Linked DNA regions of Homo sapiens: region 2 is linked to region 1. Evidence: fine-mapped expression QTL. A gene starts in region 1. The other region holds a variant in brackets. All regions are shown on one strand. Distances are between the middles of the regions.

Region 1 (11,591 bases):
CTGATCAACGAGGCGCTGGAGACGCTGATGGAGCAGGCAGTGGCTGCTGTGCAGAAAATGGACCAGGCCGAGTACCAGGCCAAGGTCTGCAGGCAGCCTGCATGCCCTGTGGGAGGGATGGGGAGGAGGGAGCCCCTCCCTGGCAGGTTTCTGACTGCACACATACGTCCCCCTGTCCCCTCTACATCTCGGGGCTAACTTTGGCCACCTAGGGAAGGTTTAAATAAGGGCCGGGGTGGGGCTGCCAGGGAAGGCAGTACCTGGACTCCAGAAGGCCTTGGGAACAGGCCTTGTCCAAGGCTCTTTATTTATCTTTGCCATGAGATACTTTATGTATCTGGAAGAGCTGCATTACAGCCTTTCTGGAACCAGGCAGAGGGGACAAGATAAGTCCACGTGCAGAAGATAAGCCCAGAACTAGGACTTATATCATCAGTTCCCCTGAGGCAGGGCCACCACCATCCTGCCTTGTCCAGGGTGCTCCCTGTTGTCCCAGCATAATTGTTAATGATGCCCCATGACAGATTCACAGAAGCAGCTTTGCCTAAAGTCCTTCAAGATTGAGCAGGAAAGCTTACCCCTCCCACTGTTGCCCCCGACTACTCATACTGTTTTTCTCCATAGCTGTTTTTTTTTTTTTCCCCGAGACGGAGTCTCACTCTGTCACCCAGGCTGGAGTGCATGGCACAATCTCCACCTCCTGGGCTCAAGCAATTCTCTTGCCTCAGCCTCCCGAGTAGCTGGGATTACAGGCATGCGCCACCATGCCCGGCTAATTTTGTATTTTCAGTAGAGATGGGGTTTCACCATGTTGCCCAGGCTGGTCTCGAACTCCTGACCTCGTGATCCACCCGCCTTGGCCTCCCAAAATGCTGGGATTACAGGCATGAGTTACTGCATCATCACAGCAATAGAGCTTCTTTTAAGCTCCAGGGAGGGTTAAGGAAAGTCTCTTCCAGGTACAAATGATCTTAGTTCTTTGGGAACCTTTTGTCCCCCAAGGAACGTTCTCTTAGGCCCCAGCCATGCCTGGTGTCTCCTCCCACCCCAGATCCGGGATCTGCAGCAGGCAGCCTTGACCAAGCGGGCGGCCCAGGCAGCCCAGCGGGAGAACCAGCGGCAGCAGTTCCCAGTGGAGCACGTGCAGCTACTCTGCATCAACTGCATGGTGGCTGTGGGCCATGGCAGCGACCTGCGGAAGGTGGAGGGCACCCACCATGTCAATGTGAACCCCAACTTCTCGTGAGACCTGTGGAAGGGGCTACTGGGATGGGGGCCTGGGAATCCTTCCCATCCAGACAGTGCTTTGAAGCTTTGGGAAGCTAAAGAGCATTGTAGCAAGTACTTTGCATTTTCACAATAATCTGGTTAGACAGGTTTTATCCCTGTCTCCATTTTACAGGCAAGGAAATAGAGGCTCAGAGAGGCTATGTGACTTGCCCAAGTTCCCACAGCCACTATCTGGTTGAGCAAGAACTGGAATTCAGGATACTAAGTGTCAAAAGACCACACATTGACCCTCTGGTCCTACCTATTCCGAAGATATCAAGAGAGCTTGGCCATCCCTGGGCCATCCTCCATCCACTATCTCCTAGAGAGTAACCTTCCCCCATCCTCCATCCATTCATTATGTTACCCTCTGTGTTCCGGGCCACTGTGCCAAGGATCTTCACACAGATTTTCTCAATTGAGGAGGTTGCATTTCAGCTAGGTCTCAATGGGTCTGGTTTGAATGTGAGCGAATGAGAAGGTAACCATGGAGGGCCAGGTGCAGTGGCTCACGCCTGTAATTCCAACACTTTGGGAGGCGGAGGTGGGTAGATCACTTGAGGTTAGGAGTTCAAGACCAGTCTGGCCAACATATTGAAACCCCTTCTCTACTAAAAAAAAATACAAAAATTAGCTGGGCGTGGTGGCCCATGCTTGTAATCCCAGCTACTTGGGTGGCTGAGGCATGAGAATCACTTGAACCCGGGAGGCAAGCCAAGATCGCACCACTGCACTCCAGCCTGGGCAATAGAGTGAGACTCTGCCTTTAAAAAAAAAAAAGCGACACCAGTTGACCTGAGTGGAAGGGACTGTGAATAATGAGATTTAGAAAAAGACAGACTAGCCCGTGGAAGATTTGAAAGGTCAGGTGTGAAAGTGTAGCCTTTATCCAGGAGGTTCCTCTTAGGAATCTTGGATAGATTTTAAGGAACAGAATGTCAGGGCAGATTTATATTTTTAGATCCCTCTAGCAGTTGGTGGAAGGATGGCTTGGGATTGGGAGTAAAAATGGAGGCAGAGAGACCCATAAGGAGACTGTGAAGACCAGGTAACCGATGCTGAGGCTTGAACCTGGGCACAAGGGAACGTGCGATGGAGGCCACACAGGTAGAACTCACCAAAGATTGGATTTCCTGGCCTGGGAAGTCTGTGCCTCTTAACCAGCAGGAAGGCCCAAGGTCCAGGCAGAGACTTGGCCGGCAGGAGGGCATGAGATCCGGGGCTGAGGAGGGTCAATGAGGGCTGTGGCCACCCCCCTTCCTCTCCAGGAACTACTATAATGTCTCCAGGGATCCTGTGGTCATCAACAAAGTCTTCAAGGACTGGAAGCCTGGGGGTGTCATCAGCTGCAGGAACTGTGGGGAGGTAAGAGCTTAGGCCACGTCCCAGGCCCCAGAGTCCTCAGCCCCAGTCTTCAGAGGCCCTCAGGGAGCCCTCACTAGGACACGGGAGACAGTCCCACCCCATGGCCTCCAGTCTGAAGAGGGAGGTCCAGCCCCTCCCTAAGGGAGCCCACAGTCTGTGACATCTCAGGTGGGAGGAAAAGGCCCTGTATTCAGGGAATTCCAACTTGAGGAGAGAAGCCCAGTCTGAGGCCAGAGACCCAGACCCTACCCTCTCTGTCTCACCTCCAGGTCTGGGGTCTGCAGATGATCTACAAGTCAGTGAAGCTGCCAGTGCTCAAAGTCCGCAGCATGCTGCTGGAGACCCCTCAGGGGCGGATCCAGGCCAAAAAGTGGTCCCGCGTGCCCTTCTCCGTGCCTGACTTTGACTTCCTGCAGCATTGTGCCGAGAACTTGTCGGACCTCTCCCTGGACTGACCACCTCATTGCTGCAGTGCCCGGTTTGGGCTGTAGGGGGCGGGAGAGTCTGCAGCAGACTCCAGGCCCCTCCTTCCTGAATCATCAGCTGTGGGCATCAGGCCCACCAGCCACACAGGAGTCCTGGGCACCCTGGCTTAGGCTCCCGCAATGGGAAAACAACCGGAGGGCCAGAGCTTAGTCCAGACCTACCTTGTACGCACATAGACATTTTCATATGCACTGGATGGAGTTAGGGAAACTGAGGCAAAAGAATTTGCCATACTGTACTCAGAATCACGACATTCCTTCCCTACCAAGGCCACTTCTATTTTTTGAGGCTCCTCATAAAAATAAATGAAAAAATGGGATAGAAAATGTGTGGTGTCTTAATTTTGTTGGAATATAATTGGTAGAAAATAAACTGCTTGTATAGTGTGCAATTGGGTACTTTTTTAAAATTGTTTTATTTTTTGACATGGAGTTTCACTCTTGTTGCCCAGGCTGGAGTACAGTCACACGATCTTGGCTCACTGCAACCTCCACCTCCTGAGTTCAAGCGATTCTCCTGCCTCAGCCTCCCAAGTAGCTGGGATTACAGGTGCCCGCCACCATGCCCAGCTAATTTCTTGTATTTTTAGTAGAGATGGGATTTCACCATGTTGGCCAGGTAGTTCTCAAACTCCTGACCTCAGGCGATCTGCCTGCCTCAGCCTCCCAAAGTGCTGAGATTACAAGCGTGAGCCACCATCCCTGGCCTGGATACATTTTAACATGCATATCCTCCACGATCAAGATAATGAACATAGCCATCACCCTCAAAATGTCCTGTTTCTTCCAGTGGAATTTTCAAAGAACAACAAAAGTTTCCTGGTTCCCCATTGAAATCCATACCTCTCACCCTTCCCCATCCAATGACCTGCTTTGTAATTTTTAGTGTTAAAAGTGTTTGGCTTTTTTGAGACAGTCTCACTCTGTCGCCCAGGCTGGAGTGCAGTGGCGCGATCTCAGCTCACTGCAACCTCTGCCTTCAGGGCTCAAGTGATCCTCCTGCCTCAGCCTCCCAAGTAGCTGGGATTACAGGTGCCTGCCACCATGCCTGGCTAATTTTTGTATTTTTGGTAGAGACAGGGTTTCGCCATGTTGCCCAACAGGCTGGTCTCAAACACCTGAGCTCAGGTGATCCACCCACCTCGGCCTCTTAAAGTACTGGGATTACATGCATGAGCCACTGGGCCCGGCCTTTTTTTTTTTGTTTTTGTTCTTATTTTGTTTTTGAGACAGGGACTCGCTCTGTCGCCCAAGCTAGAGTACCGTAGTACAATCATGGCTCACTTCAGCCTCAACCTCCCAGGCTTAAGCAATCCCCCCACCTCAACCTCCCTGGTACCTGGGACTACAGATGTATACCACCACACCTAATTTTTGGGGGGTAGAGGGGCAGTGTACAGACAAGTTCTCACTATGTTGCCTAGGCTGATCTCCAACTACTGGGCTCAGGTGATCCTCCCAAAGTGCTGGGATCACAGGTATGAGCCACTGTGCCTGACCTAGTGTTAAAAGTTTTAGGCCAGGCGCATTTTCTCACGCTTGTAATCCCAGCACTTTGGGAGGCCGAGGTGGGCAGATCACCTGGGGTCAGGGGTTGGAGACAAGCCTGGCCATTTCGGTGAAACCCCATCTCTACTAAAAATTACAAAAATTAGCCTCACATAGTGGCAGGCCCCTGTAATTCCAGCTACTCAGGAGGCTGAGGCAGGAGACTCACTTGAACCTGGGAGACGGAGTTTGCAGTGAGCCGAGATCATGCCACTGCACTGCAGCCTGGACAACACAGTAAGACTCCATCTCAAAAATAAAAAAATAAAAGAAGTTTTAAACACTCCTCTTTAATAGCCCTCCTAAGCCTTATTCATAAAGGGTATCAACAGTCTAAACTTGAGGCCCATCAAGAGTGTGAGGGCTTCCTGCTCCCCCTACCCCATAATAGCTTCCAACCCCGATATTCCCCTCTCCACCTTCCCTTAACCCTCAGATCATCTCCCCTAGGCTGGGGAAAGGCTGAGATCCAGGGTTTGAGGGGTGGGCTCAGGTAGGCACGGGGGTGGGGAAAATTACAAAGGCCTAAATTTTCTGTTCTCATTTTAACAAGAAAGAAAAAGAAAGGCAAGATCTAGGTTGCTTCATCAGGGAAAGGGCTATTTCTGTAGTACAAGGCCCAGCAGGCAGGAGACACCTTCAAGAGGAAGGGAGGGGGCTAGGGCAGAGATTTGAGAGCAGGATGGCAGTCCTTCCTGCCGTCCAACCTCCTTCCCTCCTGCTACATTCTTGGTTCTGTCCCCAGGTAGATGAGAAATGCACCCTGTCTTCTCCCAGCATTTTCTTTTTTCTGTAGGCCTCTTGTCTGATTGAGGGCTGAAATTCCCGTTCCCGTCTTTTTGGCTACCATCTCCCATAGACAGTGTACTTCTCTTTCCCAAGGCCCCCCTCTTCCTCCTCTCAAAGTGTCCTTGGCCCTGGATCCAGGAGTCTCCTTCCTCCTCCCTCCTGTCCCATCTCCAGCTGCCTTCCCGGGGGGAGAGTTGCCCATCCGCTCCCCACTTTGCCTTCAGTTAGTATACTGCCTGCCAGCAACGTGCCTTTTACAGGTCAATAAAATTAGCGACTGGGGGCAGAGGGAGGGGGCAGGGGCTCAGGGGTGCTAAGCTCAAAGGCCTTGAATGTGGCTAGACTCACGGAGTCAGGACGCCTGTCATTCCAGGGCTAAACAGTGACAGCTGGGGGACCTGGGCTGGCGCTGGGGGCGGAGGAGGGGCTGTGTGGCAGGGAGGGAGATGGGCTGAGGATAAAGATGGTCTGGTTGCCTAATGGCCCCCTCAGCGGCCTAAACCCCTACACAGCTGAGCCCTGGAGAGGGCACCCTTACTTTAGAGGAGTGTCCCGTCTCACACCCAACCCTGCCAGGCCCGAAGAGCTCAGATGGAAGGGGACTCAGGCCAGGAGAGGTTTCTGAGCTTTCTTCTTCGTGTGAGGGGTCTTTATATGAAGTCACCCTCTCCAGGGCATCTGGGCGAGGCTGTCTGAAGCGGGGAATTCCCACCCACCCCCCGCACCCCCTGGAGTCCTAACTTCCCAGCCTTCAGAACTCGAGCTCCGGGCCCTCCCTGTGGCTCAGATGCTCTCCCGGGACTTCCCACCTGAATGAGCCCGCGCACCCCACCGGCGGGGCCTCGAGGGAGGGGCCGGCCCGGCTCCCCCTCCCAGCCCCGCCCCTGCCCCGCCGGGCCCCGCCCCTCCCAGCCAGCCCCACACGCAGCGTTCCCAGCCAGGCGAGAGCAGGTGGCCGCGGCGGGCTCCGTCTCTGCCCCGCAGGTAAGACGGCGACGCGGGCTAGTCCACGCCGAGGACCTCGAGGGCAGCGCGGGAGAACGAGGCAGCCTCTTCCACCTGTCCGGTCCTCTCGCCTCAAAATTGGGGGACCCCAAGGGACAGTGAGGATATCCCTATCTCGGCTCTGAGCGCCGACGTTGGGCATCTGCTGGGCGGGACTGAACTCTGGGGCAGTTAGAGGGTCCTGGCTGGTTATCCCTGATGCCAGGCGGGCTCCAAAGGATGGAAAAGAAAGAGCCGGGCATTAGACACGCAGCTTTCTGGAGTGGGGCAGGTTGGGGATGGTGAGGACGGGGGTCCGGAGTAAGGAACCTCGTTGACTGAGAGTGCGCCATGCCTCATCCAAGGGCAGCCTCTTCCCCACCCTAGGGGGTGATGGCTTGACCCAAACTGGGCTTCTGTTCCGTGGGCTAATGAGGTAAAAGCCGCCGCATAGCTGAGCTGGGGCCTGGGATTTTCTAATGAGCCCCAGGGCACCTGCATCATTTATTTACATCTGGGTACAAGGGGGTGAGCAGGGGATTACCCCGATGGCCTAGGGAACCCGGAAAGTCTGGGAACTCAGTAGATCTTTTCTGTGTCTGTGTCACAGAGCCGGCTGGGGAAGGTGATCGCAGATGTGGCCTTATTGCAGACAGGGGAGCATTTGCACCCTCAGTGTTGGGATTTGGGCTGTAGGAAAGGGGTCCTGCCTCCCAGGACCTCGAGGAAGCCTTCCTGGAGGAGGAGGACCTGGGCTGACAGCTTGAATGTGATGCTCAGAGCTCTGAGCCACTAAGGAGAGGCAGCCTTTGGGTCTTGGTGCTGGGTTGAAGTAGAGCAGAGGACCCTGGATTATAGAACAAAGGGAAGTCAGGACATTGCTGTCTGGGTCCAGCTGGGACCCCAGGGACCTTCCTGAGATCATCGCAAGCCTTTGGACAGACACGGGTGACAATGGGGGGAGGGGGGCTTCCTTGTCTGTCTAGATTCCCCATTCCATTGCCTCATTTCACCACACAAACCATCAGAGGCAGAAGTTCGTTCTCATATCCGACCTTCATCCCTTCTGGGTCTGTGCCAGCTTCTTGCTTCTGGGAGGCCATGTGCTCTAGTGGAAAGAGTGGGGGCTTTGGGGTCAGTTAGAGCTGAGTTCTGACACCTCTACCTACTGCGTGACCTTGAACAAGTTTCTTAACCTCTTTGAGTTCACTTAATCACCTGTAAAATGGGGATAATAATAGAACCCACCTCATAGAGTGGCTGCAAGGGTTAAATGAGGGTACACATGTAGAGCGCTTAGCACAGTGCCTGGAGCCTGGCGAGGGCTCAGAAAGTACCAGTGTCCCCTCATGTGTGGGACAGCAAAGCCGATCTGCAGGGAGTGAGAGCGAGCAGGGGAGGGGGGAGTGGAAGGGTTTTTTTTTTTTTTTTTTTAGCTAAGCTTGGCTAGAAAGAGTGCCCTTCACTGCATGCCCCCCTACCAGGGGGAACCTGCCCCCTGCTGGTTCCTGGATCTCTGGACCTCTCTGGGCTGCCCAGGGCCCCTCACCTCCTCCTCTTTTAGTCACCTTGTTTGTGTTGCCTTTTGTCTCTGTAGAGGGGAGAGAGTCCCCCCGCCCCCGCCCAAGGCAGGGACCAGTACCAGCAGGAGCTCACTTGGGCTGTGCCTCAGTGGAACAAGCTCTGGCTTGGAGACCCAACCTGAAAAAAATGCCCTCTTGTCATCACTGCTCTGCCCTCCCACCTCCAGGAGTTGGGATCAAGCCGCACTAAATTTTTCCAGGAAGATAAATAATACGAGTGACTGAAAGTCCTGTTTGGGGATTGTCCAAGCTGTCCTCCAGTGAAAGGACAGCTTCAGGCCCTGGCCTGATCTCTAGGCTGCCAGGGAAGGCTGAGTTCAGTAGCACCCTTAAACCTGGGCAAGGGAGGGAGTGCCCATGCCCTAAGCTGGGGGCTTTCAAAGGCTCCACTCTGGCCCTCCTGCTGCCAGTCCTCTCCCTGTGGGATGAGGCATCAGCAGGGCCGAGGGGATGAGACTGTGAGTCCCCTCCAAGACCACATTCTCCATACCTGTGACTCTGGAGGTCCCTGCCTAGATGGTCACCATCTGGCTCCCAGCCCATGCCAGCCTCTTCCCTGGGCCTGTCTGCCTCAGGACAGGTTATGCCAATAGTGTGTGCACCCCTACGGACAGTGAAGGGACAGCTATTTGCAGGGGCTGTGGATGGAGCAAGGACATGAGGCTGGGTGTCCTTATACATGCACAAGAGTCCCTTGTGGTGCAGACAGGACCCGGCAGCAGGAAGGGGGGTGGCCAGGGTGCGAGTGGAGCTGTCTCCTCTGCACAGAGTCATTCTGATGTGTAAAGCTCAGGAGGCAGATAAATCCAAATTTGTATCTGGTCCTCCAGGTTGTTAATGAAGGTGTATTTGTCAGGGTGAGAGGTTAGAACATATTTCACAGTTTGCTGGCTTGATTTATAACTTTTAAATATTTAGACATATGTCTGTGGGCCGCCATTTGTCCCCTTGCCCCAGGCCCTGTGAGTGTTCCAGGTGGGCCTGGCTGGGCCTGTGACTTCAGCTGCCATTTGGTTAATTCCTTCCCCACTCTCCCTGTCCCCCAGTAGAGTAGCACCCCTATAAAACTGGGCTTAGAACATGCTTACCTGGACCAGGACGGAGTTTCAAGGTGAAATGAAGATTGTCAGTTGTCATCAACAAGCAGTTCCCCTGTGGGCCTCCTGACCTCATTATCCACCACAAAACTGGGACAATTTTTTTTTTAATGTCCTGTGATGCTTGAGAGGGAAGGGCTGGGGAGGAGAGGTTACTTCTCTCCTGTGTGTGGTGAGGGTGTGGGTCACTGGACCCCAGGAGCAAGGAGAGAGCTAAATGGGGCCGCAGCAGCAGGAGGGATGGAAGCTAGCCTGGGGGAAAGCCAGGGTTGGACCCCACCATCCCTCTGGCTGCCCTTCTCAGAGGGAGCTGCGCCTGCCACCCGGGAGGGCCCATGTGTCTATCATGTGGGTTCTCCCATGAGTTTGGAGTTTGGGCTTGGGACAGGGGAGACTGTGGGGTCAGCTGGCCAGGCGGCGGGGGTCATCCCCAGCGGGAATGAATGGTACGCTGGTGTTGACTGTAGTCAAGTGCCCTGTGGCACCTGGACACACCGTCTGTTCAGAAGAGGCATGAAACCTTTATTGTGGCTGTCTCTGCTCACTCATTGTTTCTGATTGGGCTATTTGAGGAACAGCCTGCCACGTTGGCCTCATTAGCATCGTGAGGCTCTTAATGGAACTGGATCCACACACGTGTACAGACACTCACAAACTCACTCAGGTACGCATGCCCGCCTGCACTAACCCCCAGAGGTCTGTGTATAGGGTTGTGCGCTCCTAAACCCCACCCCAGGTCAGACCCACCCTGACACACATGGCTTGTGACACCCATACCTTCACCCCAGTCACACTCTCACTGTCCCTTATTGGTGACTTTTCATTCACCTTGGGTGACCCACTGGCTCCAGTGGCCAAGGGCTGGCTTACTAGAGGGTGGCTGGGGGCCAGATGCCGGCAGCGGTTGGTTAAGCTTTTGGGACAGGAGGCAGCAGCATTGCCCTGGTGAGGCCACCCCCAGTGGGGCTCGACCCCCAAGCACTTTGGCTCCCCCCACGTCTCCCAGGAGAGTGTCTCTGGGTCCTGAGGCTGTCTGTCCTTGTGTAGTTCTCGTGAGCCTCTTTCTGCTTCGGCCTGTGAGTGTGTCTGGCCCTGCGCCTCCTGTGTGCTCCCCATCTGTGTCCTTTCCCCTCTCCTGACCCTGTCCTTTGTTATCTCTGTCTCTCCTCTCCACCCGTCTAGCTCTTTTTTCTGTGAGTCTTTCTATGTCTTTTCTTCTTCCTTTTTCTCTGCCTCCTCTGTCTACCCCTTCTCTCTCTGTCCCTCTCTCTCACACTCCCACTCTCAGTGTCTGACTGCGTGGCTATCTCTCTGGGTGGGTCTTTCTGTATCTTCACCTCTCTCTATATCTGCCTGTCAGTCTGGACATGTATCCCTCTGACTCTCTGCCTTAGTCTCTTGAGGAGTCTCGGCAAAAGGAGAGCCAAGAGTCCTGAAAGAAGGTGACAGCCAGGCACGGTGGCTCACGCCTGTAATACTAGCACTTTGGGAGGCTGAGGCGGGTGGATCACCTGAGGTCAGAAGTTCGAAACCAGCCTGGCCAACATGGTGAACCCCCGTCTCTACTAAAAATACAAAATTAGCTGGGCGCGGTGGCGCATGCCTGTAATCTCAGCTACTTGGGAGATTGAGGTGGGAGAATCGTTTGTACCTGGGAGGCAGAGGTTGCAGAAAGCCAAGATTGCGCCATTGCACTCCAGCCTGGGCAACAAATGTGAAACTCCATCTCAAAAAAAAAAAAAAAAGGTGATAATGCCTCCCAGGGGGCCACGATCACTTCTGGGCTCCTCCACTGCCAGGCAAGGCGGCAGGAAAGGGAATATCACGTCCTAGGGAGAGTGGATGGGCCGAGTGCAGTGGCTCACACCTGTAATCCCAGCACTTTGGGAGGCCAAGGTGGGTGGATTGCTTGAGGTCAAGGAGTTAGAGATCAGCCTGGCCAACATGGTGAAACCTCGTCTCTGCTAAAAAAGTACAAAAAATTAGCCGGGCTTGGTGATGGGTACCTTTAATCCCAGGTACTCGGGAGACTGAAGCAGGAGATTTGCCTGAGCCTGGGAGGTACAGGTTGCAGTGAGCCAACATCGTGCCACTGCACTCCAGCCTGGACGACAGAGTGAGACCCTCTCTCAAAAAAAAAAAAATAAATAAAATAAAATAAAAAGTAAAAAAAATAAAGAGCTGATGGCTCATCTCCTCTAACTCCTCTGTTGAGAACTCCGGGGTTTCGGCTCTGAACTCTGAAACTTTCTTCAGTGATGAGGCCCAGGGTCATAGGCCTGGGAGCAGGGCTGGGGGTCCAGAGTCATCACTCTGGGAGATAAGGGATAGAGCCCCTTGTCTGTCTGGTTGACCTGATTGACCTTGAACTGAGGGAAGGGTGTTGGGACTTGGAGTCTCCCTCAGAAGAGGCGTTGACCAGAGTGGGGCTGAATTGACACTTTTCTTTCTCCTGGAAGCAGTCAAGCTCA
Region 2 (11,591 bases), 62 kb after region 1:
CCCTTTTGAGGGCCAGGCTGAAGGTGGAGGGGCCTGCCCAGGCCTGGCTACGACCCCTGCCTCCAGGGGCGTCAAGGTGGAGTTAGACCCGGCCAAAGTGGCTGTGCTGACTACTGTGTACTGCATGGCAAAGGAGGATGTGCCCAATGACCGCTGCTCTGCCCTGCTCGAGCTGCAGAGGTTCAACCTGTGCCAGGCACTGCTGGGCACAGAGCATGGCGATTACTACAGTCCCAGGAGGGTGAGGGACATGCAGGTGGGTGACAGCCAGAAGTATGGGGGAAGGGCTTGGGAAGGGAGGACACTGAGCCACCTGGGAACAGCCCCAGCATGCCAGCTCCTTGGGGAGCAGCTAGGGCATTTCATTCATATCTTCACCCTTCAGAACCTTCCCTGAGAGCCTATGTCCCTGGTCCTGGGCCAGCTGCAGGGATACAACAGTGAAGAGGCCAGACCAGGCCTCTTAGCGGGCACAGGGGCACTCTTCTCACTGCCTAAATCAGACGTTGCAAACTGGTGGCCTGGAGGCTTGATTGACCCACAGATGTATTTAATTTTTTTTTTTTTTCTTGAGGAATCTCACTCTGTCACCCAGGCTGGAGAGCAGTGGCGTGATCTCAGCTCACTGCAACCTCTGCCTTCCTGGCTCAAGTGATTCTCCTGCCTCAGCCTCCCTATTAGCTAGGAATATAGGCATGTGCCACCACGCTCAGCTAATTTTTGTATTTTTAGTAGAGACGGGGTATCACCATGTTGGCCAGGCCAGTTTCGAACTCCTGACCTCAGGTGATCTGCCTACCTCAGCCTTCCAAAGTGCTGGTATTATAGGTGTAAGCAACCGCGCCTGGCCTCTGTTTTTTGTTTTTTGGTTTTTTTTAAACATAGAGATGGGGTCTCATTATGTTGCCCAGGCTGGTCTTGGGCTCCTGGCCTCAAGCAATCCTCCTGCCTTGGCCCCGCAAAGTGCTGGAATGGAAATGGAAATGACTTTTGACTTAGTTTTCTTTTGGGGCTGTTTTCTGTGCTGAGCCTGTTTAATTGGTTTTCATAATGTTTTTGAAAAACTCGAATGTGTTTCAACTTTTAAAAAACTCAGGAGATTACATATAAAAATCTAGATTTGTGACTTGTGTTGAAAAGCAAGGTCCCCATGCTCTCAGAGCAGGATGTGCTGGAGTTGGAGAGCAGGGTGTTCCCTCTGGCTTATCCCTGGCCCTCTCCAAGCTCAATATCACTCACATGGCCCCTGGAAGCATGCAAATTGCAGCTCTGTCCTAGGTACTAACTGTGTAAGTCCTATGGGCTGGGTTGGAGGTGGGGGAGTTGGATCTCATCCTACAGAGATGACAAATAGAGAAACAGCACACAGCTGGGACCCAGGGTGACTGGTTGGGAGTTGGGAGTGAGTGTGCCTATCAGTTAATCACTGAGCTGGACAGTGGAGGGAGACCCCCAGGAATAGGGCAGACTAGGATGATGCTATAGAAAAACACAGTGAAAAAACTAGCTTTCCTAGAGCTCTTTATGATTCATAAAGTGCTTTTACCACAACAAAAGTTGATGTTTATAATTCACAACAAGCTTTGAGAAGATTTCGGGCTGGTATTAGCTGACAGCAGGTATAAGAGCTGAGAAAACTAGACCGGGTGTGGTGGGAGGCCGGGGTGGGAGGATATTCTTAGACAGGCCAGGAGCTGTAGAGATGAGAAAACTGAGGCTCGGAGAGGTGAAGTGACTGGCCGAAGGTAGCACAGCCAGTAAGTGGCAAAGCCAGGATTAGTCCCTAAGTCTGTCTAACCTCAAGGCCTGGGCTCTTTCCACCACCCCGCACTGCCTGCCTCCGCCTCTCAGGACAAGCCTAACTCAGTCCTCCCTCCCTTTCTTTCCCTGGCTGTCCCAGGTGGCCATTGCCAGTGTCTTGCACACAGAGGCCTGCCAGCGCCTGAAGGCATCCCCATATGTGGGGCTGGTGTTGGACGAGACCAGAGACTGGCCGGAGTCACACAGCCTGGCCCTGTTTGCCACTTCAGTGTCCCCCTGTGATGGCCAGCCCGCCACCACCTTCCTGGGCAGTGTGGAGCTACAGGAGGGCGAGGCCACTGCTGGCCAGCTCTTGGACATCCTGCAGGCTTTCGGCGTATCTGCACCCAAGCTGGCCTGGCTCAGCTCAAGCCTCCCCAGTGAGCGCCTGGGGAGTGTGGGCCCACAGCTCCGGGCCACTTGCCCACTGCTGGCAGAGCTGCATTGTCTCCCTGGCCGGACAGATCCTGAGCCCCCGGCCTACTTGGGTCAATATGAGAGCATATTGGATGCCCTATTCCGCCTCCATGGTGGCCCTAGTTCCCACTTGGTCCCTGAGCTCCGGGCAGCACTGGACCTTGCAGCTATTGACTTGGCAGGGCCTCGGCCAGTGCCCTGGGCCTCCCTGCTGCCTGTAGTGGAAGCAGTGGCCGAGGCCTGGCCTGGCCTGGTGCCCACCCTGGAGGCTGCAGCCCTTGCCTCACCTGTGGCGGGGTCACTGGCCCTGGCCCTGCGCCAGTTCACCTTCGTGGCCTTCACCCACCTGCTGCTGGATGCCCTGCCCTCTGTGCAGAAGCTCTCCCTTGTCCTGCAGGCAGAAGAGCCGGACTTGGCCTTGCTGCAGCCTCTGGTGATGGCGGCTGCGGCCTCCCTCCAAGCTCAGCGCGGCTCAGGTGGGGCCCGCCTCCAGGGCTTCCTGCAGGAACTGGCATCCATGGACCCTGACGCCAGCAGCGGACGCTGCACCTACCGCGGCGTGGAGCTGCTCGGTTACTCCGAGGCTGCGGTCCGGGGCTTGGAGTGGCTCCGGGGATCCTTCCTGGACTCCATGCGGAAGGGCCTACAGGACTCCTACCCCGGGCCTTCGCTGGACGCCGTGGCCGCCTTCGCAGCGATCTTCGACCCCCGACGCTACCCGCAGGCGCCGGAGGAGCTGGGCACGCATGGCGAGGGGGCGCTGCGGGTGCTGCTGCGCGGCTTTGCTCCTGCCGTGGTGCGCCAGCGGGCGCTGGGCGACTTCGCGCTGTTTAAGCGCGTAGTATTCGGCCTTGGGCGGCTCGGCCCGCGGGCCCTGTGCACCCAGCTGGCGTGCGCGCACTCGGAGCTGCACGAGCTCTTCCCCGACTTCGCCGCCCTAGCCGCCTTGGCTTTGGCGCTGCCCGCGGGCGCTGGCCTGCTGGACAAGGTCGGCCGCAGCCGGGAGCTGCGGTGGTGGGGGCAGAGTGGGGCCGGGGAAGGCCGGGGGGGCCACATGGTGAAGATCGCAGTGGATGGGCCCCCGCTGCACGAGTTTGACTTCGGGTTGGCTGTGGAGTTCTTAGAGAGTGGGTGGGGAGAGGGCTTCCTGGGGTCGCAGCTCACCTGAGGGTGGCCTCCTTCCCTCGGCCCATCCAGCCTGGGGCCCTGGGCACTGTAAGGGCCAACCTAGACTTGACCATGCTGCACCCAAGATGATCTGCTGACTGCAGCCTCCCAGGGGCCTGAGGCCATCCACCCGCCCTTCTGGAGCTTCCCACCAACCCCCCCCACCCTGTGGGCTGTGGAGGAAGGGACTGGCTCAAGAGGGGCCTGGGCGGGTGGGCAGAGATGCTAGGATCTGGGGTACCCTAAATCATTCCTGGCCTTTACACAGTTAGATGAGGAGTAGCTCACCCTTTTCCCTTCTGGACTCGGGGCAAGTTTGGGTCCCCCCAAAGATGGGAGTTTTTGGCTTGGGGAAGGAAGACTAGGTCTTGGAAATTGAGTGGCTGAGGGAACGGACACTGGTCCTTGGTCCTTGGCTGTTTCTTTCTTTTTCTTTTCTTTTTTTTTCTTTTTTTGAGATGGAGTCTTGCTCTGTCGCCCAGGCTGGAGTGCAGTGGTGTGATCTTGGCTCACTGCAACCTCTGCCTCCTGGGTTCAAGCAATTCTCCTGCCTCAGCCTCCTGAGTAGCTGGGATTACAGGCGCCTGCCACCATGCCTGGCTAACTTATGTATTTTTAGTAGAGACAGGGTTTCACCATGTTGGCCAGGCTGGTCTCGAACTCCTGACCTCAAGTGATCCACCTGCCTCGGCCTCCCAAAATGCTGGGATTACAGGCATGAGCCACTGCGTCTGGTCCTTGGCTGTTTCTTAGCCCCACTCCTGGCAGTGTCTCTTCTCTTCAGCTATGACTGGGGAGTAGATGACCGTGCTTGTTTCTGACACACAGCACAGTGTCCTCTCTGTACACAAGCTGGTGGTTCAAGGGCCAATGGTTCCAGAGAGATAGTGGTTCCCTTCCTTCCCTCCTCACCAATAGGCAGCCTCAGGCCTTTTCTGTGTATAACTGTGTATATAGACATAAAAACCTACAAATGTGAAATAAATCTATGCTATCTTTCATAGTGTTACCACACAAACATCTAAAAGGACTACTTTTGGTTTTGCAATGACAGGGTCGAAAAAAGCCCCAGATGGGCTGGATTTTTTTTTTTTTCTGATATTTTCTTCCTCAAAGTCCAGTTGCTCTCCAAGTTCCTACCCCTCCCCTGCCCTTGCCTCAGACCTTTAAGACCAAAGACTGCAAAACCACAGTGCTGTACCTGCCACCTCCAAGGACTGGCGTCGAGGCCCAACCCAGGAATGTTGGCTTATTTACCTCCTGGGGGAAGCAGTTTAGGCCTCATCAGAGCTGGGGAGCACATCCCTTCAGAGCCCATGGGTTTCCCATTCCCTCCTGTCAGCCCTGGCCATGAAATCCTGGGGATCTGGAGGGAGGGAGGATAGTTAGAGAGTGAGAGGGGCGAGGGCTAGCCTTTTCCTAATACCCCTGGGTTTGAGTTTAATTTGCAATAAAATGGAATCCCAGCACATCATGCAGTCTCCATGGTGGTGTGTGTGTCAGGGCCTGCCCAGACCCCTCTGTCCCTCTCTTGGCTGGGCTGCCCTGGGGTTCAGTATGCTGCCTCAGTAGGGGCAGGAGGGTCATCCCTCTGGGCTGGGAGCCTCAACTGTGGACTCCCTGCCTCTGCTTCCCCAGCTGTGGGGAGGAAGGGCACAGAGAAGGGGGCTATAATCACTATGGGTCTGGCTGGTGCCACTCTGTGAAGAGAGACACAGGTTTCTGCCCAGCTCCACACCCAAGAAGCCCACCCGCCTCTTGTTCTGGCCACGGGGGTAGGACAGAGCCCATTTCAGACCCTGCCCTTCTTCCTCCTGCAGCAGGCCCGGCCTCCGGCGCCCCCAGCCCCCTGCTGGCCTCCCTGCCCCTGCCCACCCGGCCTCTGCAGCCCCC[G/A]CTGGACTTCAAGCACTTGCTCGCCTTCCACTTCAATGGCGCTGCCCCGCTCAGTCTCTTCCCCAACTTCAGCACGGTATGGGCTGGGCTGGCGGGTGGGGGCATGCACACAAGCTTGTGGGTGGGCACAGAAGGTGGGTTCAGAGGGTCCAGCTCTCAGCAGCTGGGTCTAACCAGGAGCTTTTTCTCCAACATCCCCCAGAGGGGATAGGTGCTCCCCAAATAGGGACCCCTATTTGGGATCCTAAGAGAGGGACCCGCTCTCTCTTAGGCTGGGGAACAAGATGGTGTCAGCCCTTTCCCCACCCCCACCATCATAGCTGCTGGGCCTGCAAGGGCCTGTAGTCTGTGCATTCCACTTAAGCTTCTGTGTAGGCGCTCCTGTGGATGACGTGTGTGTGTGTGTGTGTGTGTGTGTGTGTGTGTGTGTGTGTAACCTGTGCCTTTTTGTTGTAGTTTCTATAGGTTTTGTATGTTATATGTGGATGTGAGTTTGTGTGTTGGTGTCCAACGTGTGTTTGTAAACAACTCTTTGTGCATGGGTAATTTTATGTAATTAAGGTATGTGCCTGCACAATCTGAGGGTTTATTGTGTCCTTGTGTCTTTTGTGTGTTTGGCGTGTATCTGCCCTCTGAGCATGCGTGTTTTTGTGTGGCTTGGGTGATTGTGAGTTTACCTGTGGTCATGTGCCCTTTGTGTGCATGAGTGTGAATTGTTCTGCTTGTCTGAGCATTTGTAACTGCCTGAAGCTTCTGTGCTGTGTGTGTGTCCTAGTCTGTACATTTCCTTGTACACGTGTGCATAACAAGTATATGAATTTTAATTCACTATATGAGGGATCAGCAACCATCTCTGTTTTTTTAAATTTTGAAAACTCAAGTGAAATCATGGGTGTGGCATGCCCCATCCTGAGCAGATGGTGGCAAACTCCACCTCAGTCACACTTAGGAATCCCTTCCCTCCCACCCTCCAGAGTTAGACAGAGGTCCTAAGGAGTCTGAGGCATTTGGGGGGTGGTCCTCTGGTCTTGAGTCCTTGCTGTCGCTTGCTGACAGGCTCACTGTTGAATGGCATGGTTCCAATTGCAGGGGGCCCCTGCAGGCCATTCTCCTCTGAGGTCCTGTCCCCTGAGCCCCTTGCTGGCCCTGGGTGCTGTGAAAATTTGAACCACTTTCTGTTCTCAGGGAAGTTTCTGCACCCATGTTCTTCTCTCTAAGCTCTGTTTTCTTTTCTTGGGAAGGTTTGGAAAGTTCCTTTTTTATTTTATTTTATTTTTATATAAGCAGAGATGAGGTCTCACTATATTACCCAGGCTGGTCTCAAACTCTGGAGCTCAAGGGATCCTCCCACCTCGGCCTCCCAAAGTGCTGGGATTACAGGTGTGAGCCACCACGCCCAGCCTGGAAAGTTCTTGACAAGTTCAGACAGCTGCATTTGGCCCAACTTCCTGAGAAAAGGGAACATAAAGCCTTAATTCTATAGAAGAAAAAAATGATTTAAAATAAGGAAAAGAAGCTAGGTGCAGTGGCTCATGCCTGTCATCCCAGCACTTTGGGAGGCTGAGGTGGGCTGATCATCTGAGGTCAGGAGTTTGAGACTAGCCTGGCCAACAGAGATGGTGAAACCCCATCTCTACTAAAAATACAAAAATTAGCCGAGCATGGTAGTGGGCACCTGTAGTCCCAGCTACTTGGGAGGCTGAGGCAGGAGAATCGCTTGAGCCCAGGAAGCGGAGGTTGCAAGATTTTGGCTCCGCCATTGCACTCCAGCCTGGGCGACAAGAGGGAGACTCCATCTCAAAAAAATAATAAGGAAAAGAAAAAAAATCCAAATTAATATTCCAAAGAAACGATCCTACTCCTTGGGGAACCTTAGGCCTCCACTTGCTGCTCCCTGCCCCCTACTGGCCCCCCACCTCCCCTGGCTGTGGCTCTCACTCTCTCAAGAGAGGTCGTCATGGCTGGGCACGGTGGCTCACACCTGTAATTCCAGCACATTGGGAGGCCAAGGCAGGCGGATCATTTTGAGGGCAGGAGTTCGAGACCAGCCTGGCCAACATGGTGAAACCCTGTCTCTACTAAAAATAACAAAAATTAGCCAGACGTAGTGGTGGGCGCCTGTAATCCCAGCTACTCGGGAGGCTGAGGCAGCAGAATCACTTGAACCTGAGAGGTGGAAGTTGCAGTGAGCTGAGATCATGCCACTGCACTCCAGCCTGGGCGACAGAGCAGTATTCCATCTTATAAAAAAAAAAAAAAAAAAAAAAAAAGGTCGTCAGCAGCCTCAGGCCCTGTGACAGTGATAGAGCTGATGAGATAGGACTTATCTTCCCCCAGCCCACAGGTCCCTGCATGAAGCCTGGGTGATGGGAGAGGAAATTCCAACAGACGAGTTCTTTGTCTCTTCCCTGCCTCTCCTTGTTTCCAACTCTCTGTCCCAATAGTTGTAATTATTGCAAAGGAGAAAAACAAAAAACAAAAATAATGACCTAAGGGGCACCAAGAGATGCCAAGGTGATCACCAGGACATGGTTCTATGTCCCAGAAACATGCAGGGCACTCTGGCCATTCCCCTGCTTCCAAGCAGAAGCCTAGGCTGACAAATAAAGACAGCCGGGAGAGGCTGTGTATTTTTCTTTTCTTTTCTTTTCCTTTCTTTTCTTTTCTCTTCTCTTTTTTTTTTTTTTTTTTTTTGAGACAGAGTCTCACTCTGTTGCCCAGGCTGGAGTGCAGTGGCGCAATCTCAGCTCACTGCAACCTCTGCCTCTGAGGTTCAAGCCTCCTGCCTCAGCCTCCTGAGTAGCTGAGACTACAGGCACGTGCCACCACACCTGGCTAATTTTTGTATTTTTAGTAGAGAAGGAGTTTCTCTTGGCCAGGCTGGTCTTGAACTCCTGACCTCAGGTGATTCACCCATCTTGGCCTCCCAAAGTGATGGGATTACAGGCGTGAGCCACTGCACCCAGGCAGCTGTTTCTTCTTCTTTCTTTCCTTTTCTTTTTCTTTTTCTTTTCTTTTTTTTTTTTTTGAGACGAAGTTTCGCTCTTGTTGCCCAGGCTGGAGTGTAATGGCCTGCTCTCGGTTCACCGCAACCTCCATCTCCCTGGTTCAAGCAATTCTCCTGCCTCAGCCTCCCGAGTAGCTGAGATTACAGGCATGCGCCATCACACCTGGCTAATTTTGTATTTTTTTTTTAGTAGAGATGGGGTTTCTCCATGTTGGTCAGGCTGGTCTTGAACTCCCAACCTGAGGTGATCTGCCTGCCTCGGCCTCCCAAAGTGCTGGGATTACAGGTGTGAGCCACCGCGCCTGGCCCAGCTGTTTCTCTTTCCAACATCCACAGGATGGAAAAGTTCTTCCTAGAAGCTGACCAAGGCCCTCTTCAGTCATCTTTAGTTTTGGGCATTTTGTGCTGCCCCCGACCCCTGCTTCCCAAGCCAACCCCAGAGTTATTATGCCCTCCCACTCCCTTCACAGATGGACCCGGTCCAGAAAGCTGTCATCAGCCACACGTTTGGTGTCCCCTCCCCTCTGAAGAAGAAGCTGTTCATTTCCTGTAACATCTGTCACCTGAGGTTCAACTCAGCGGTGAGACAAAGTAGTGAAAGCAGGTCTGGGGAGGGGGCTGGGCAGGGAGAGGGCTGGAGGCTGGGCTTTCAGAGTCCTTCTGGGAGGAATATCAGTGGCAAAGGGGCTGTGGTCGGTATTTTCCACCCTGGCTGCAGAAGAGGCACTCTTGGTCCTTTAACCATCGCATCCTCTCCTCTCTCTAGATTCTTCTGCCCCTTCCCCTTCTGCCCAGCTGTAGCCCAGTGGGATTCCATTTCCTTCCCCCCAGGCCTCTCTCCTGTGTTCTGGATCCTTCTGCAAGAGAGAAGACTGCCCTTCCTCCACTCCAGGTCCCAGTGGCCCATCTCATCAGCTCCTGGTCTGGAGCTGAGCTCTTAAGGCACCTGAGAGTTTACAGAATGTGATCATGCCCATCCCCTTAAATAATAGTTTTCATGATACATCTGTGAGACGGGTGGAGGCGGGATTTTTTTGTTTTGTTTTGTTTTTTTAGACAAGGTCTCACTCTGTCACCCAGGCGGGAGTGCAGTGGCGCAATCTTGGCTCACTGCAGCCTCCACCTCCAGGGTTCAAGTGATTCTTGTGCCTCAGCTTCCCTAGTAGCTGGGATTACAGGCATGTGCTACCACGCCTGGCTAATTTTTTTATATTTTTGGCAGATACAGGGTTTCACCATGTTGCCCAAGCTGGTCTCGAACTCCTGGGCTCAAGTGATCCACCCACCTCAACCTCCCAACATGCTGGGATTACAGGTGTGAGCCACCGCGCCTGGCCTAGAGGCGCTATTATAATCCCCGATTTTCAGATGAGGAAAGTGAGCCTTAGAGAGGTTAAGTGACTTGCCTAAGACCACACAGCTGGTAAGTAGCAAAGCTGGGATATGAATCCAGGCCTGGCTGACCCCAAGGTCTATGACTTTCTACTACAGCCTACCCCTTTCTACTACATCTTACCACTAGGTAGAGGAGGAACCTCATTCTGGCCTCCCAGGGAAGGTCTACCTCCTGTTAGGCAATCTGGGGTTTCGGTTGGATGCCAGCAGAACTGCTGTGGTATAGCATCCAGGGAGGGGCCATGGGGGCCTGTCTTTCCCATGTTTCAAGGAGGTGGGCCGGGGAGCAGCAAGTGAGGACCCTTGGAGGGAGGACACTGACAGACCAGATTTGAGGATTCCCTTCAGGCCTTCTGGTTCCATGAGTCCTGCAAGAGATGGAGGAGAGGCTGGGCGTGGTGGCTCATGCCTGTAATCCCAGCACTTTGGGAGGCCAAGGTGGGTGGATCACTTGAGGTCAGGAGTTAGAGACCAGCCTGGCCAACATGGTGAAACCCCATCTCTACTAAAATACAGAAGAAAAAAAAAAAAGCAGCCAGTTGTGGTGACAGGTGCCTGTAATCCCAGCTACTCGGGAGGCTGAGGCAGGAGAATCGCTTGAACCCAGGAGGCAGAGGTTACAGTGAGCCTAGATTGCTCCCGTTGCACTCCAGCCTGGGTGACAAAGCGAGATTCCGTCTCAAAAAAAAAAAAAGATGGAGGAGAGAATTCGTTCTGAGGGAGGAACCATTCTTCTTCCTGCCGGACCCCGGGCACAGTGCCTGGCAAATAGCAAATGCTCAGTAATGACTTGTTGAACAAATGAACAAAGGGATGAATGTTCTGGGGTACATACACCCCAAAGTGTGGGGATTGCTCTGCTTTCTCCATTTGTGCATTGATACACTTGATAACTAACATTCATTGAGCACCTACTCTATGTACTCGGCCCTTGTAATTCATGTTCCCATGTAATTCTGACAACCCCATGAGGTCAGTATTATCATCACAGGGTTTATGGGTGAGGAGACTCAGGCTCAGAGAGATGTTACTTGCCTAAAGATGTAGTTAGTGGCCAGGCGTGGTGGCTCACGCCTGTAATCCCAGCACTTTGGGAGGCTGAGGCGGGTGGATCACGAGGCAGGAGATCGAGACCATCCTGGCTAATATGGTGAAACCCCGTCTCTACTAAAAATACAAAAAATTAGCCGGGTGTGGTGGCGGGCGCCTGTAGTCCCAGCTACCCCGGAGGCTGAGGCAGAAGAATCGCTTGAACCCGGGAGGCGGAGGTTGCAGTGAGCTGAGATGGCGCCACTGCACTCCAGCCTGGGCGACAGAGCGAGACTCCATCTCAAAAAACAAAAAACAAAAACAACAACAACAACAACAAAAAGATGTGGTTAGTAAGTGGCTGGGTCAGATCTGAAGCCAGAGGCAGCCTGCCTTGGAGTTCATGTGCGAGAACACATTCTGCAAACCTCAGAGCCACATGTGCTATGGTGATGATGATGACAAGGACAAGGACTTGCCCTTTGTGTGACCTGAGCCCTGCCTCCCTTTGACCTGTCCCCCTGCTGGGCTCCAGTTCACAGATGGGGCATGTGGACTCAGCCAGTGAATGGTGACCTCTTGCCCTCCCCTCCCCAGAACCAGGCCGAGGCACATTATAAAGGCCACAAACACGCCAGAAAACTCAAGGCTGTCGAGGCTGCCAAGAGCAAGCAGAGGCCACACACCCAGGCCCAGGATGGGGCTGTAGTGTCCCCAATCCCAACGCTGGCCAGTGGAGCCCCTGGAGAGCCACAGAGTAAAGGTCAGTCCTGAGCTCTTCTCTTTCCCACGTCTCCACTCCAAATCTGGTTTCCGACAAGGGGTTGAGAGATTTCTGCTTATTCTTTTTGCTTGTGTTGGAGTATTCCATACAGACAGGCAA

Which allele goes with the higher level. Alleles are on the strand shown, and positions count from the first base shown. SD is a standard deviation of normalised expression in the study named.
With allele G in place of A in region 2, the expression in anterior cingulate cortex of the gene that starts at base 6,377 in region 1 is higher (large effect, 1.2 SD a copy in GTEx).

What was found. PIP is the estimated chance that this variant, and not a neighbour inherited with it, causes the effect.
Region 2: its variant is fine-mapped to the expression of ZNF385C in anterior cingulate cortex (GTEx, PIP above 0.99). The same link has a PIP of 0.9 or more in amygdala, aorta, atrial appendage, breast, cerebral cortex and esophagus mucosa.

Annotation. Positions count from the first base shown.
Region 1 is chr17:42,093,259-42,104,849 of GRCh38, reverse strand. ZNF385C (zinc finger protein 385C) reads left to right here and starts at 6,377. Exons shown (of 9, transcript NM_001392013.1): 1 at 6,377-6,440. DHX58 (DExH-box helicase 58) reads left to right here. Exons shown (of 14, transcript NM_024119.3): 11 at 1-84; 12 at 1,052-1,242; 13 at 2,538-2,634; 14 at 2,904-3,439. The coding sequence ends at 3,089. RefSeq lists an enhancer at 1-447.
Region 2 is chr17:42,031,499-42,043,089 of GRCh38, reverse strand. ZNF385C (zinc finger protein 385C) reads left to right here. Exons shown (of 9, transcript NM_001392013.1): 3 at 5,205-5,353; 4 at 8,755-8,865; 5 at 11,306-11,471. It overlaps C17orf113 (chromosome 17 open reading frame 113), which reads left to right. Exons shown (of 3, transcript NM_001358661.2): 2 at 1-256; 3 at 1,901-4,858. The coding sequence ends at 3,385. Among named protein-coding and RNA genes, the nearest start is that of C17orf113, 13 kb to the left of the region's middle. The variant G/A (reference allele first, on the strand shown) is at 5,278.